Regions from separate parts of the Homo sapiens genome. Here region 2 is linked to region 1. The links come from fine-mapping of genetic effects on gene expression. Tissue or cell type: lymphoblastoid cells. Region 1 holds a variant in brackets; the other region holds the start of a gene. All regions are shown on one strand. Distances are from middle to middle.

What was found. PIP is the estimated chance that this variant, and not a neighbour inherited with it, causes the effect.
Region 2: it holds the start of PCGF2, and the variant in region 1 is fine-mapped to the expression of PCGF2 in lymphoblastoid cells (TwinsUK, PIP 0.95).

The regions. Positions count from the first base shown.
Region 1 is chr17:38,864,112-38,871,805 of GRCh38, forward strand. It overlaps LASP1 (LIM and SH3 protein 1), which reads left to right and starts at 5,947. Exons shown (of 7, transcript NM_006148.4): 1 at 5,947-6,147. The coding sequence starts at 6,079. It overlaps TRC-GCA2-2 (tRNA-Cys (anticodon GCA) 2-2), which reads left to right and starts at 3,534; the gene lies at 3,534-3,605. TRC-GCA4-1 (tRNA-Cys (anticodon GCA) 4-1) reads right to left here and starts at 5,252; the gene lies at 5,181-5,252. RefSeq lists a cis regulatory region at 3,326-3,939, enhancers at 3,598-4,200, 4,201-4,801, 4,377-4,556, 6,047-6,196, 7,209-7,694 and silencers at 4,157-4,256, 5,677-5,986, 6,507-6,606. The variant T/C (reference allele first, on the strand shown) is at 3,955.
Region 2 is chr17:38,744,918-38,751,034 of GRCh38, forward strand. It overlaps PCGF2 (polycomb group ring finger 2), which reads right to left and starts at 3,419. Exons shown (of 11, transcript NM_007144.3): 1 at 3,279-3,419; 2 at 2,962-3,054. LOC100287808 (a long non-coding RNA gene) reads left to right here and starts at 4,117. Exons shown (of 1, transcript NR_149004.1): 1 at 4,117-6,117. RefSeq lists enhancers at 458-1,223, 1,224-1,988, 3,017-3,552.

The sequences.
Region 1 (7,694 bases):
TTTTGCTCCTCTTGCCCAGGCTGGAGTGCAGTGGTGTGATCTTGGCTCACTGCAACCTCTGCCTCCTGGGTTCAAGCAATTCTCCTGCCTCAGCCTCCGGAATAGCTGGGATTACAGGCACCCACAACCATGGCTGGCTAATTTTTTGTGTTTTTGGTAGAGACGTGGTTTCACCATGTTGGCCAGGCTGGTCTCGAACTCCTGACCCCAGGTGATCCACCCACCTTGGCCTCCCAAAGTGCTTGGATTACAGGCATGACCCATCGCGCCTGGCGTTTTTGTTTTTTTTTTTTTTTTTTTTTTTTTTAGATGGAGTCTCATTCTGTCACCCAGGGTGGAGTGCAGGGGTGCGATCTTGGCTCACTGCAACCTCCCACCCCTGGGTTCTATTGATTCTCCTGCTTCAGCCTCCCGAGTAGCTGGAATTACAGGTGTGTGCCACCACACCTGGGTAATTTTTGTGTTTTTTGTAGAGTGGGGTTTTGCCATGTTGAGAAGGCTGGTCTCGAACTCCTGACCTCAGGTGATCTGCCCACCTGGGCCTCCCAAAGTGCTGGAATTACAGGCGTGAGCCATTGTGCCTGGCCACCTGCATTCTTCTCTAGCTCGGCTGTTCTACTTGTTCCTACTTGTAATAGACTAAATAATGACGCTCCAAACATGTCTACATCCCAGTCTCCTTGTGAATCTATTTGTGACTATGTTACCTCTCATGATAAAAGCAACTTTACAGATATGATTAAATTAAATATCTTGAGATGTGAGGTTATCCTGGATTATCCAGGTGAGCTCAGTGTAATCCCACAGGTCCTTACAAGAGGGAGGCAGGAGGATCAGAGTCACAGAGAGAGGAGATGGTAACATGGAAGCATGGAAACCAAGGCTAGACGGAGACAGGATGATATGCTGCTGGCTTTGACAACTGGGGAAGAGGCAATGAGGCAGCAATGTAGCGGCCTCTATAGGCTGGGAAAGTCAAGGAAACGGATTCTCCCCTAAAGCCTACAGAAGGAATGCAGTCATACTAACATTTTAATTCTAGCCCTGTGGATTTTTTTTTTTTTTTTTTTTTAAGATGGAGTCTTACTCTGTCACCCAGGCTGGAGTGCAGTGGCACCATCTCGGCTCACTGCAACCTCCGCCTCCTAGGTTCAAGCGATTCTTCTGCCTCAATTTCCTGAGTAGCTGGGACTGCAGGCGTGAGCCACCATGCCTGGCTAATTTTTCTATTTTTGGTAGAGAAGGGATGTCACCATATTGGCCAGGCTGGTCTCGAACTCCTGACCTCGTGATCTGCCTGCCTTGGCCTCCCAAAGTGTTGGGATTACAGGCATGAGCCACCGAGCCCAGCCAGCCCAGTGAAATTGATTTTGGGATTCTGACCTCCAGAACTGTGAAGATAATAAATTTCTGTTGTTTTATGCAAATAGACTGTAATTTGTTATATCAGCAATATAAAACTAATAAAACACTGTAGTCTAAGACATCACCACCATCTCTGACCCGTATTATTACAATAGATTCCCAACTGGCTTCTCTCTCTCTCTTTTTTTCTTGAGACAGAGTCTTGCTCCGTCACCCTGGCTCACTGCAGCCTTGACCTCTTGGGCACAAGCAATCCTCCTGCCTCAGCCTCCCAAGTAGCTGGGACTACAGGTACACACCACCATACCTGGCTAATTTTTAAATTTTTTTTGTAGAGATGGGAATCTCACCATGTCGCCCAAACTGGTTTCAAACTCCTGGGCTCAAGTGATCCTCTTGCCCTGGCCTCCAAAAGTGCTGGGATTATGGGCATGAGACACCATGCCTGGCAGACCCTCTTAGATTTTCAACTATACAATACAGTATTGTTAATTGAAGGCAAAATGTTGTACAGCCGATTTCTAGAGTTTTTTCATCTTGCAGAACTGACATTTTAGACCTATTGATCAGCAACTCCCTCCAGCCCCTGGCAACAATCGTTCTACTCTCTGCTTCTGGGAGTCTGACTATGTTAGAAACCTCATATAAGTGGAATCATGCAGTATTTGGTCTTCTGTAACTGGCCTGCTTCACTTAGCATAATATCCTCAAGGTTCATCCACGTTATTGCATATTGCAGGATTTCTTTCTTACTTAGTTTTTTTTTTTTTTCTTTTTTGCAACGGAGTTTCGCTCTTGTTGAGAGCGAAACTTGTTGCCCAGGCTGGAGTGCAATGGCGTGTTCGTATTCTTTTTGGAGAGACCAAGGAAAAACTTTATCCAGTTTTGCAGGAGGTTGTTCTCTGACTTGCTAGCGGGGAGAGATGAGTGGGATTGTGGATAAAGAATTGAGCCTAGGCCGAGTGTGGTGGCTCACGCCTGTAATCCCAGCACTTTGGAAGGCCAAGGTGGGCAGATCACCTGAGATCGGGAGTTCAAGGCCAGCCTGTCCAACATGGAGAAACCCCGTCTCTACTAAAAATACAAAATTAGCCAGACGTGGTGGTGCATGCCTGTAATCCCAGCTACTCGGGAGGCTGAGGCAGGAGAATTGCTTGAACCTGGGGGGCACAGGTTGCGGTGAGCCGAGATCGCACTATTGCAATCCCGACTGATCAAGGAGAGCGAAATTCCGTCTCTGGGCAACATAGGGAGACGGCCTCCTTCACCCACCACCTGCCCCCATCTCCACAAAATGGAAAACAAACAAACAAACAAACAAAAATTGAACCAAGCAGGGGTGCGGTGGCTCATGCCTGTAATCCCAGCACTTCGGGAGGCCAAGGCGGGCAGATCATGAAGTCAGAAGTTCGAGACCAGCCTAGCCAACATGGTGGAACACTCATCTCTACTAAAAATACAAAAATTAGCTGGGCGCGGTGGCGGGCGCCTGTAATCCCAGCTACTCGGGAGGCTGAGGCAGGAGAATCGCTTGAATCCGGGAGGCCGAGATTGCGCCACTGCACTCACTCCAGCCTGGGTTACAGAGGAAGACTCCGTCTGGAGAAAAAAAAAAAAAAAGAACTGAACCTAGACAAAGCAGATTGGCACCTAAATTCACACGCTTTTCAAACTGCCACCACGTCTTGGCCTAGCCTTTTTTTTTTTTTTAGATGGAGTCTCGCTGTGTCGCCCAGGCTGGAGTACAGTGGCATGATCTCGGCTCACTGCAACCCCCGCCTCCTGGGTTCTGGGTTGCAGCAATTCTCCTGTCTTAGCCTCCTGAGTAGCTGGGACTACAGGCTCCCGCCACCGCTACCGGCTAATTTTTTGTATTTTTAGTAGAGACGGAGGTGGGGGGGGGGGGGGTGGGTTTCACCATCTTGGTCAGTCTGGTCTCGAACTCCTGACCTCGTGATCCGCCCGACGCGGCCTCCCAAAGTGCTGGGGATTACAGGCGTGAGCCACTGTGCCCGGCCTATCTTGGCCTAGTCTTTTAATTTCTCCTTCCTCATTGGTAATTTCAGTATAATCTAGCAAAGAGACACTAATTTTGAACGAATGGTGAAAGTATGAAAATTTTGGGATCAATCGATGTAAAAACAATTTACCAGAGAGCCACCGCCAGAGGGGGTATAGCTCAGTGGTAGAGCATTTGACTGCAGATCAAGAGGTCCCCGGTTCAAATCCGGGTGCCCCCTCGGGTTTCTTTAAGTTTTTTTCACAGCCATCCAGGAATAACCTGAGTCAGCGAGTTCTGAATGCAAAACTCACGGGAGGTGTCGTTTGTATCTTCCACCTACCTAATTTTCACCTTGAAAGGATTCCCGTACCCTAGAGGGAGAGAACAGCAACCAGAGGCTGCCTTTAGGTGGATCTGAGCCCTCATACCCCAAGTGGCGATAAGCGCACCAGTACTCTCAGTTGGAGAACAAAGGCGCGTATCGATTTCCATCTCCGATGCCCATTGGTTTAACGTTAATTATAATTTGTTTTGGGGTAAAAAATATGTCTTGGACGGGGCAGTAGTTCGTACTTGACTATGAAAAC[T/C]AGGAGAAGTAATCCAAATTCAGAGGTTTTCATATACTCGCGAACTCGAACAGGACAGGGCACACAGATAGAAGGTAGACAGCGAGCAATTTTCCCCTCTTCCTTCTTGACTCAGCTCATAGGCAGGGCTTTGGCTTGATAAGCTATACATGGAAAGTTCAAGGCCTAAAGGAGAGGTAAAACTGGTTCCTCCTGGGTTTTGCACGGAACCGCAGCTCTGCTGATCTGTGATCTCTCTGTTCAGCCTAGAGATACAGCTCACAGTAATAGGAGCCAGGAGAAAAAAATGCGCGTTTCCCCGGGGTCCGAGGAATGACACAACCACATTCCGGGTTTAAAATATCGCAGCTGCCCTTTGACCCAGGCAGCACGCCTCTTCCTTTCTCCTTTATTTTTCCTTTTTTTGGGCAAAACCTAGTCGAGGGGGACGCCCTTGTCTCCCGTCACACTTACCATTTTCCTCCGGCCCAACAGTGACCCTGTCAGGCACGCAGCCAGCAGATACTTGTCCCCATCTTTAGGTTATGAAACTCCATGGCCTTTTATTCTTACTTCAGTGGTTCTTAAAATGTGGTCCCCACACCAGCAGCACCAGAGGCACCTGGAAACTTGGTAGAAATGCAAATTCTCGGGGCCCCCTTACAGAATCAGAAACTAGCAGTGTTTTAACAAGCCCTGCAGGTAATTCTGATGCACGTTCAAATTTGAGAAACACTGTGTTCGTTTATCTCAGTTTGCACTGGGTTATAACTTTACTTTTGTACATTAATAGTCAAGGATGAACACAGCACGTCCATGTCACCATTAATACAGAAAGTTGAAGTTGGAGAAGGGCTGTGTCTATGGGTTTCCCTCGCCTGACCCACCCTCCACCCCCAAAAGGAACGCCAAGTTGAGGCGTTCCCCTGTCTCCCTACCCCCATTGGAAACATCCTGTCCCTCAAACCCGGCACCTCGAACTGTCTGACCCATCTGAGGCTGGCGCCCGTGGCCGCAGAAATCCCTACACCTCTGGCGCGAGTAATGCGGTCGCGCAGCTTTTATACCCACCCCCTCCTCCCGCTGAGCACAAAGTAAAACCGAAAGATTTCTGCTAAGGTTGAAAAATGAGGAAGATACTTTTTCTTTTCTTTTTTTTTTTTTTTTTAGTCAGGACCCAATGTTAAAATGTGAGTCAAGAATGAAAAACAGATGGTTAACAAGGGGAAGGAAAAACCAAGCCATTGAGGGGGCACCCGGATTTGAACCAGGGACCTCTTGATCTGCAGTCAAATGCTCTACCACTGAGCTATACCCCCGCGCCTCTACAGCGCCTGGAGGCGGCTCCTTGGGTGCTAAGCATTGTTGCAGCTGCTACACTGTGAGTAGTGGTGTAACAGAAGGAGAAAGGAATGCTGGAGAAAAAGGGGTCAAGCTGAACGCAGACGGTGCCCGCATCCGGGGAACCCCGGGAAGGTGCACTGCAGGGGCTCGAGAGGGAAGCACTAGCCCGGGCCCGGCAGCGCGCAGGGTCCAAGAGGGAGGGACGGGTTCCGCCCCACAAATGTGGGAAAGGGTGTGGGCCGGAAGAGAGCTAAGAGGGGCAGGGTAGGGGGTCCCCGTTCGGTCCGCAGATTCATGCCGGGTAGAAAGTCCCCGAATGCGGTGAATCAGTTCCAGCGTTCAGGAGGATCCAACCCCACCCTCGACGGGCTTGAGGGGTTAGCCCGCCTCCCGCAGCCCGGGCGCCCCAGATGTGCAGCCTGCTCGCCTCTGCGCCGCCTCCGGCTGGGGAAGGGCCCTGGGCACCGGGCGCAGTCAGCCTGAGAGCGCTGAGGCGCCAGCACCGCGGGCCCCGCCGTCCCCCCAGGAACCCGCCCCCGCGCAGCCCCACGTCGCCCGGAGAGCGCGCCTCGCTGCGCGTGCCCTTGCCCGCGCCCGAGGCGCGTGCCCGCCCCAGTGCAGCCCCTCCTCCCCGCTGTGTTTATTAGGGGAAGGAGGGCGGAGGCGGAGGCCAGTTCCCCAGCTCCAGCCGCCGTCGCTGCTGCCTGTGTAGTTGCAGCCGCGGCCGCCTCCCGCCAGCTCGCCTCGGGGAACAGGACGCGCGTGAGCTCAGGCGTCCCCGCCCCAGCTTTTCTCGGAACCATGAACCCCAACTGCGCCCGGTGCGGCAAGATCGTGTATCCCACGGAGAAGGTGAACTGTCTGGATAAGGTGAGCCCGGGACCGGGAGACGCGTCTTTGCAATCCCCCGCAGTGCTCCGAATCCAGGGAGGAGAGAAGGGCCGGGTCTTTGCCGCCTTATCCCCGCGATCCCAGGAGAATGGAGGGAGGGCGAGCGGGCGGTGTCATGGGGTGTGGGGACACATCCCAGTCTGAAAACCAGGAGATCTGGGGCGAGGCGGGAAGTCCACGCGTAGCGGGCAGCCGCTGCTGGAGAGGGGTGGGCTCTGTGTCCCGGGGTTGGGAGGACGGGAGAGGAGCAGGGAAGTCAGGCGCCGGGGTGTGTTGGGGGAAGGTTAGGGGTGCAGTCCCGCCCCCTACGGCCTGGAGAGTGAGAAGAGACGGCCGCTCCCTCTCCGCTCTGCGCCGAGCGCCAAGTAGGCGGAAGCGCGGGGCGCTGGTGGAGGGGGCGGGGGGGCGGGGCAGAGGCTGGGGGGCCCTGCAAAACCGTCCGCTCCGGCGGGGGTGGCCTGGCTTCCTGGCCTGGCGGGGCGGGGGCTATCAGCCTGCGAGTGTGTGGCATCTGATGCGGGGGGTTTTGGGTAAGGACCCGGGCTCTGCCGCAAGAGCCCCGTTTTTGAACGACCTGCACCCCCTTGGATTCAGTCGTTAAAGGACTCGCAGACCTCCTCCACAGCTTCCCAACCCCCACCTCCAATTAAAAGCCAACTCCCGGTGCTGGGCCGTCCAGCCTGAGCCGGGTGGGGTTGGGTGGCAGAGTAGGGTGGGTGGAGGGTGCTTAGCTGAGATCTCCTGAAATTGTGCTCAGAGCCAGGAGACCGTGTGGAAGAACAAAGAGCTAACTTTTCAAAGCAGGTTTCTCCAATGGAGGGTGGGGTTGGCTGAGTTCTGGGGAAGCCGAGGAAAGGGGGAGGTATTGGGGGGAGGGGAGGGTGGCCTTGTGGAGATTCAGTGTCCCCTGGGGGCCCTGTCTCCCCAATGCTGGACTTGTTCATCTGGTTGCCATTAGACTTTTGGAGGGGGGTTGGAGAGTAGAACTGGGTGTTTCCCGTACAGTTTAGGGTAGGATCCTGTTCTCTTGTAAGCTCCGTAAGATCCTAAGGTAAAACCTGCCCCTCTGCATCCCCTCCCCAGTCTGGAGGGGAGGCCTCTGTGATTTTGTGCCCTTCCTCACCGCGTCTTTCATCCACCACCCAAAGCTGGCTCCAAGTCCAAGTATTCTGTCCTTTCCATCTGAACTGGGAGGGCTGGGAGGACTGGATGGAAGAGAGGTGCAAGGGTGGGAACACTAGATGAAAGAGGGGTATAGAGCCCTGGGGCCAAGTTCATTACTGACCTGGAGCCAGGTTTTGTTCAGGAGAGGATAGTTTATTGGACACCTTATCTCTCCCCTCCCCCTTGGTGTGTGAGCTTCCTCAGTGACCTTTGGCCTCTGAGTCAGCGTGAGGAGGTGGGGTTGGAGGTTCTGAAAGATATTTGAACTTGCTCTTGGGGAGTGTGGGCATATGGGGCCGCTGCTGTGTCACTGTTCCTCCTGGTCCTGGGCTTGACTGGGCAGGAGGAGAGGAGGGGGTATA
Region 2 (6,117 bases), 120 kb before region 1:
GAAAGCACCTTGTTCAGCTGGGCGTGGTGGCTCACACCTGTAATCCCAACACTTTGGGAGGCCAAGGCGGATGGATCATGAGGTCAGGAGTTCAAAACCAGGCTGGCAAAGATGGTGAAACCCCATCTCTACTAAAAATACATGGTGGCTCACGTCCGTAATCCCAGCACTTCGGGAGGCCAAGACGGGCGGATCATGAGGTCAGGAGATCGAGACCATCCTGGCTAACATGGTGAAACCCCGTCTCTACTAAAAATACAAAACATTAGTTGGGTGTGGTGGCACGCGCCTCTAGTCCCAGCTACTCGGGAGGCTGAGGCAGGAGAATCGCTTGAATCCAGGAGGCAGAGGTTGCAGTGAGCCGAGATTGCGCCACTGCACTCCAGCCTGGGCAACAGAGCGAGACTCTGTCTCAAACAAACAAACAAAAATACAAAAATTAGCGGAGCATGGTGGCAGGCGCCTGTAATCCCAGCTACTCAGGAGGCTGAGCCAGAGAATTGCTTGAACCTGGGAGGCAGAGGTTGCAGTGAGTGGAGATCGTGCCACTGCACTCCAAGCTGGGCCACAGAGTGAAAGAAACTCCATCTCAAAAAAAGAGAAAAAGAAAAAGAAGCACCTGTTCAATCCTTTCATTTTACAGATGAGCACACTCAGATGTGACTTGTCTAAGGTCACAAAGCAAAGCAGTGGCAGTCCTGTGACAAGAAAGTGCCTGACTCCCACCCCAGTGCTTTTAACATCCTGGCACCTGGCCAGGCTCCTCACTCATCTAAAGCAGTAATGCCCGGCTTCATCCCAGCAGGTGGGAGGGGAAAAGAGCAGCTCCCTGGAGTGGCGGGAAAACCACTCAGTGGGCCGCCGTCTGGGAGGGAGTCAGTCTGGCCCAAACATGACCATCAGCATGGACTCCTGCCTTGAGGCAGGAAGAGGAGGCACATGTTAATTGCCTTACCCCACTTCCTACACATAGGGAAACAGAGGCTGCAGGGAAGCACAGCCAGCCAGAGTACAGCATCAAGACTCAGACCAGGGGTTTTATGACTCTGTTCCTCTCCCAGCTTCGTGGGTCCAACTGCGCAAGCCCCTTGTATTTGTGTTTGGGGCCGTGAGGGTCTGCCTAGGGACACTGTGAACCTCCCAACTTTCCCCAATCCTTGACAATGGCACAAAGATCTGCTCCCCTGTCCCCACCATGCATTGAAAAGGGCCTCCTGAAGCTGGGCTTACTCAACCCTCCCTTCCTCCCTCTCCCACCTCTCAACTCCCTAAGATCAAACAAAGGCAAAACCCCAAAATATACACATTGCCAGATACACACACATACAGCAAGACACACCCCCCTCCACCTCTCACACTCACTACACACAAGGCCAGATAGACACGCCACAACCCTCCCCCACCCTGCGCCACACACACACACAATCACAGCCAGACCAGAGCCAGGCCCACCCTCGCTACATGCAGAAGCCATCCACATCCACCCCCCACCTAGAAGCACACAGCCTGACATCCCTGCCTGGAAACAGACCCTGCAAACACACACTAACCTTTTGTACGACCCTGGTCCACCCAGGGTAAATTATAACATAAGTCTTCCAGCAACAAAAGCAGTTCAGCTTCCAAAGTCCGCTCTGGGGACCAGAGGCTGGAGGGCTGCAGTGGGCATGTGACCTGCACAAAGCTGTACCCTCTTCCTGTTCGGGCTCTCTCCATTCCCATGACAACAGCTCCATCAACCAAGATCTCTCAGGCAAGGCCAGGGGCAGCAGAGTCCCCCTTCCTGCCCAACCCCCAAGACTTCAACTTGAACCCTACCTAGCTACACATGGTCTGGATCCTGGGGTTGGTTTCCTGCTTCATTCCAAAGTCAGTTCTAAAGCCTCAATCCCCCAACCCCCAACCAGGGGAGCCCGTGGGAAAACCTTCCCACCAAAAAGCTGCAACAGAGCTGGCTTTATGCTCCCAGTAATAACACCTTGGACCAGAGTGAAGGGGGGAGGGAGGAGAGAAATTAAAGAGTTTCAGGAACAGAAACTGCCAGAGGTCCCAGAGGAGGAGGCATCAGAACAGAGCGGGGAGGGGACAACCAGGAGACAGCCCTCCCCTCGAGACAGACCTCTGGGGAGACTGAGGCAGCATGGGGGACACTGAGGGACAAAGATCTCGGGAAGCGCTGGGTAACACTTCCACAATATTCACTGGCAAATCCACCCGCCTCCATGCCGCCTCCTCCCACCTCAAGCCAACCGGAGCGATTATGGGCAGACAGGGGCAGTGGGGGAGGGCGAGGGGCAGCCCGGGCCCACCGTGGAGACAGGCAGGGGGTGTCTGCTTGCCCGGGGGTCCCACGCCCTCAGAGCTAGCAGTAGGAGGGCGTGCGCAGGGTGGGGTGGCTGGGCGTCCCAGGGGAAGGGGGGCCAGTTTAGCAGATCCCCCTGCTTCCGCTGGCGATGGGAAATATTGCGATAAATTTCCCTCCATCCCCATTCTACCCCCAGCGCCCGGGCTTCCCCAGGAGCCCATGTCCAAGGATCAGGGACCCCAGTTACCGGGTGGCCGCTCCCACCTTCCCTAGAGCCAAACTTTCTGCGGGGCCCCGGGAGGGGTGTTCCGGAGGGAGGCTCTGCTGAGGTGGTTCGGGGAGGGGGCGGGGCGCCGGCGCCGGGACGGGGAGCGGGGACCGGCGGGGGGAGGTGCCCGAGAGGACCCGGACCCCGGCGGGGAAGGGCGCCCTCCCCCGGCCTCGCGGCCGCCCCAAAGCACATCCCCTTCTGCCGGCCCCAAGTCCCCGCGCGTCCACGGCGCCCCTGTGCCCACGGGAGAGCGACCCCCGCCCAGATGGAAAAGGGGGTAGACCGGGCAGAGCGAGAGGCGGCTTTGGCTCGTGGGGAGCGGCGACCCAACCCAGCGCGCATCCCGCAAGCCCTCCCGGCTGCCCCGGACCTTCCCCCTCGCTACCTCGGAACAGGGTCTGCCCGGGGGCTGCTGCACAAAGAGGTGGTGGTCGAGGGAGACGCCAAATCGTTAAGACGGGGAGCCCGTTTCGGCCATCTTGGAAGAGAGGAAAGGGAAAAAGGGACAGAAAAAAGGGAGAAAGAAAGGCGGACGGGGCAAGCTGGGCTAGGGACTGACGGGGCGCGGGGGGTGCGAAGGCAGGATCGGCTCAGAGCCTCCCCCTCCCATCGGGGCTTGCGAAGAACGGCCGGCCCCCATCCCAATCCCCAGAGGGTTACAGGCCAGGAGAGGGAAAGGCAGGGGGAGTCCGCTCCGCTTACCTGGGTTCGGGGTCCGGTGGGTCTCGGGGAGGGGGGGATGGGAGGGAGGGAGGGAAGGGAGGGGAGGGGGGCCGCAGCCGTGTCGCTCGCCCGGGCGGCGGGAGGGGAGAAACCTACGGTAAGAAAGGAGTTTGTGAAAGCGGCTTGGGGTGGGAGGGAGAGGGGAGGGGAGGGGACCGAGGGGGGAGGGGAGGGACCGGAGTGTGGGGGGGAGACAAAATGGCTTTTTTCCTCCAGACAAGAGTAGGTCCCGCCCACCACTCACCCACGTGACCTCATTCCTTCAGGATGCTGGCAGAGACGGGAAGAGGAGGGGGAGGCTGGCGCGGCCGCTCCCCGCCACCGGCTGCCGGGTCCCTAGCCAGGACGAGACCCCTCCCTTCCCATGCGGCCGCCCCGACCCCGGAGGATGGATTCTCTTATGTTACCTTCCGCAGTTAGCCCCCCTCCCTTCAAAATATGGGTTCCCCCCACTGACACTGTGATGCCCATCCCTAACTGGGGCGCCTGGAAAATGGTGAAATGGGGACTGGGCTGAAAGGTGGCTCGTGGTCCTCCACGCCCCGGCCTAGACCAAAGGGCGCGGGGCTCCGGCGGGGGACGCGACGCCTTCAGCCAGGCGTCCGAGCGATTTTCATTCACTCCAAGTGACACTCCCTTAAAATTAATAACTGCATCTGGGAGGGCGAGCGTGTCCTCCCCACTCCCCTTGCCCCCTCGGCGGCAGGGGCGCTGGCCCCGAAAAGCGGCGCACCAGGATCCAGCCTGGGCGCCTGGCAGGGAGCAATCGCGAGAGGGGAGTGGAGGTGCGGGGTGAGGCCGGGTGGGGGGCCTCGCCGCGGGGGGATCGGGTAGCTCTGGCGGAGGCTGCGCCCCCGGCGTGCTCGGGCAGAGAAGAACGGAGGCCCGCTGAGGATGGGAACTCAGGCTCCGGGTCTGGGACACAATAATCCGGCCGAAGGCGAGCGGCCACACTGGACTAGGAAACGAGGCGCCGGGCTGTAAGGTGGGCCCGCGCCTTTTCTCCTGCCTGGCGCTGATTCCCGCATTTTTCGCTCGCGCCCTGCGCTGCGCGCTGCCTGTGCGCCTCCCTGGGCGCGCGGGCGGGAGAGTCGGGCGAGCGCCAAGACGGCTGGGCCCGACTCCCACTGGCGCCCCGGCTCCACCTGGCGCTGGGGCTCCGGTCCGCAGTGGCTCCGGCAGGAGGGAGAGAACGAGGAGGGAGGCTTGGAAACGCCGGGAGTAGCGGTGAGGCCGACGCCGGGGAAGCGAATCGATACTGCGTTACTGGACGCCCGTGGGCCTCATGAGGATGGTCGATTCCCTCATTCGTTATTCACGATTTATTAGGGATGGCGGCCGCGTCTGTCCCTCCAGAGAGCTCGATTATCCATCCGGCCAGCAGCGCCATTAAGCGCACTGACGGTGGGAGGCTCGAGTTAGAAATTAGGATAGGAATCTTCGCCCAGTTTTGGAGCGCCTGCCTCCTCTTCCCTCGTTGCTCGCAGCCAAGGCAGCCGCGAAGCTGGGGGCCTCGGGTGAATGCTTTCGCCCTCTGGCCGGCGACCAGGAGACCTGCGCACACTGGCCGCCGAGTGACCCCAGCTCGAGCCTGCAGCCACACCAGCGGGACGGGGGCGGGGAGGAAGAGGAAGGGCGGAGAGACTTCCTTCCAGAGGGAGTGGTCCGAGAACCGGCGGGAGAAGGGCCAAGGGAAGATCCGGTCACCTGCTCCGGAGCCTGCAGGCGGAGAGGCGAGTAGTTCACCGGCCCCGGAGGAAAGGGGACCCTCCCACTGTTCCCAGGCAAATGTGTCGCCGGCATCCTGCACTCTGCCGGGGAAGACGCGCATCCACTCGCTCTGCAGGGAGGGGAACGCGGGAAGGACTCCCAGTCAGCCGCCCCTCTCTGGCTACAAGACCCCGAACAAGAGAAACCTGTAACAGGGGCTCTGCGGAGATCTGGATCCCACCCACCAACCACATGGGCACCTGGGGGGCTGCCCCTCGGGGCATTATCAGCCAGTGGGAAGGGGGTTGACGTTCCTCTGCGGCCCATGAATCCTGGAGGGCTGCCCGAGGGGCCACCGGGGTCCATCCACTTATTCTTCGGTTGTTAAGCGCCAGACAGGAGAGAACCGCTAGAGAGGAGTGTGCTAAGACCCTATTACCCACTAAAACTCCATTTTCATCTTTTGCGTCCTGGATGACTAGTCTCCACATTCCTGGCCTTTCTGGTTTCTCAGGAGAACCTTCTGACCCAACTCTTCCCACATCGAAAGAGTTTCCTAGTCTTTTGTTCTACTACTAGCCGACATAGAAAGCACCTGTCATGTGCCAGTGTCAAATACTGCGCTAGGAACTGGGAACTCAAGGCACAGGAGCCTGGCTTTTGCGCAGGGCGCTCACAGGCCGGTGGGTGCAAACCCTGAAGGACACACAGCCTGTCCCTTTAGCGCCCATCGCTTCTGGTGTGAGCTCCCGCTAAGGGTGGGTGAGTACTGGGGTGGGCTTCCAGAAGAGGCCTCCTTTGAGCCGAATCTGCAGAGACCAAGTGTCTATGAGAACTGCTCAAGAGTGCTTTGCACATTCTCCTCCACAAAGGTCGAGGCTCCCACTGCGCCCAGGAATGCGCCTCGTCAGACATTAGGCGCCCCTTGATTTTGTGTTTGCATCTCACGCGGTCCTCTAGCTGACAAGTGCATCAGAAGAGTCACAGTGGCTGTCACAAGCCAGAGACTCGCAGAGGACAGGAACGCGGGAAATCTAGGCAATTACCTCCAGCATATACCAAGAGCTATTGCGAGGATCAGATCCCTTTAAAAATGGTGACGAGACAG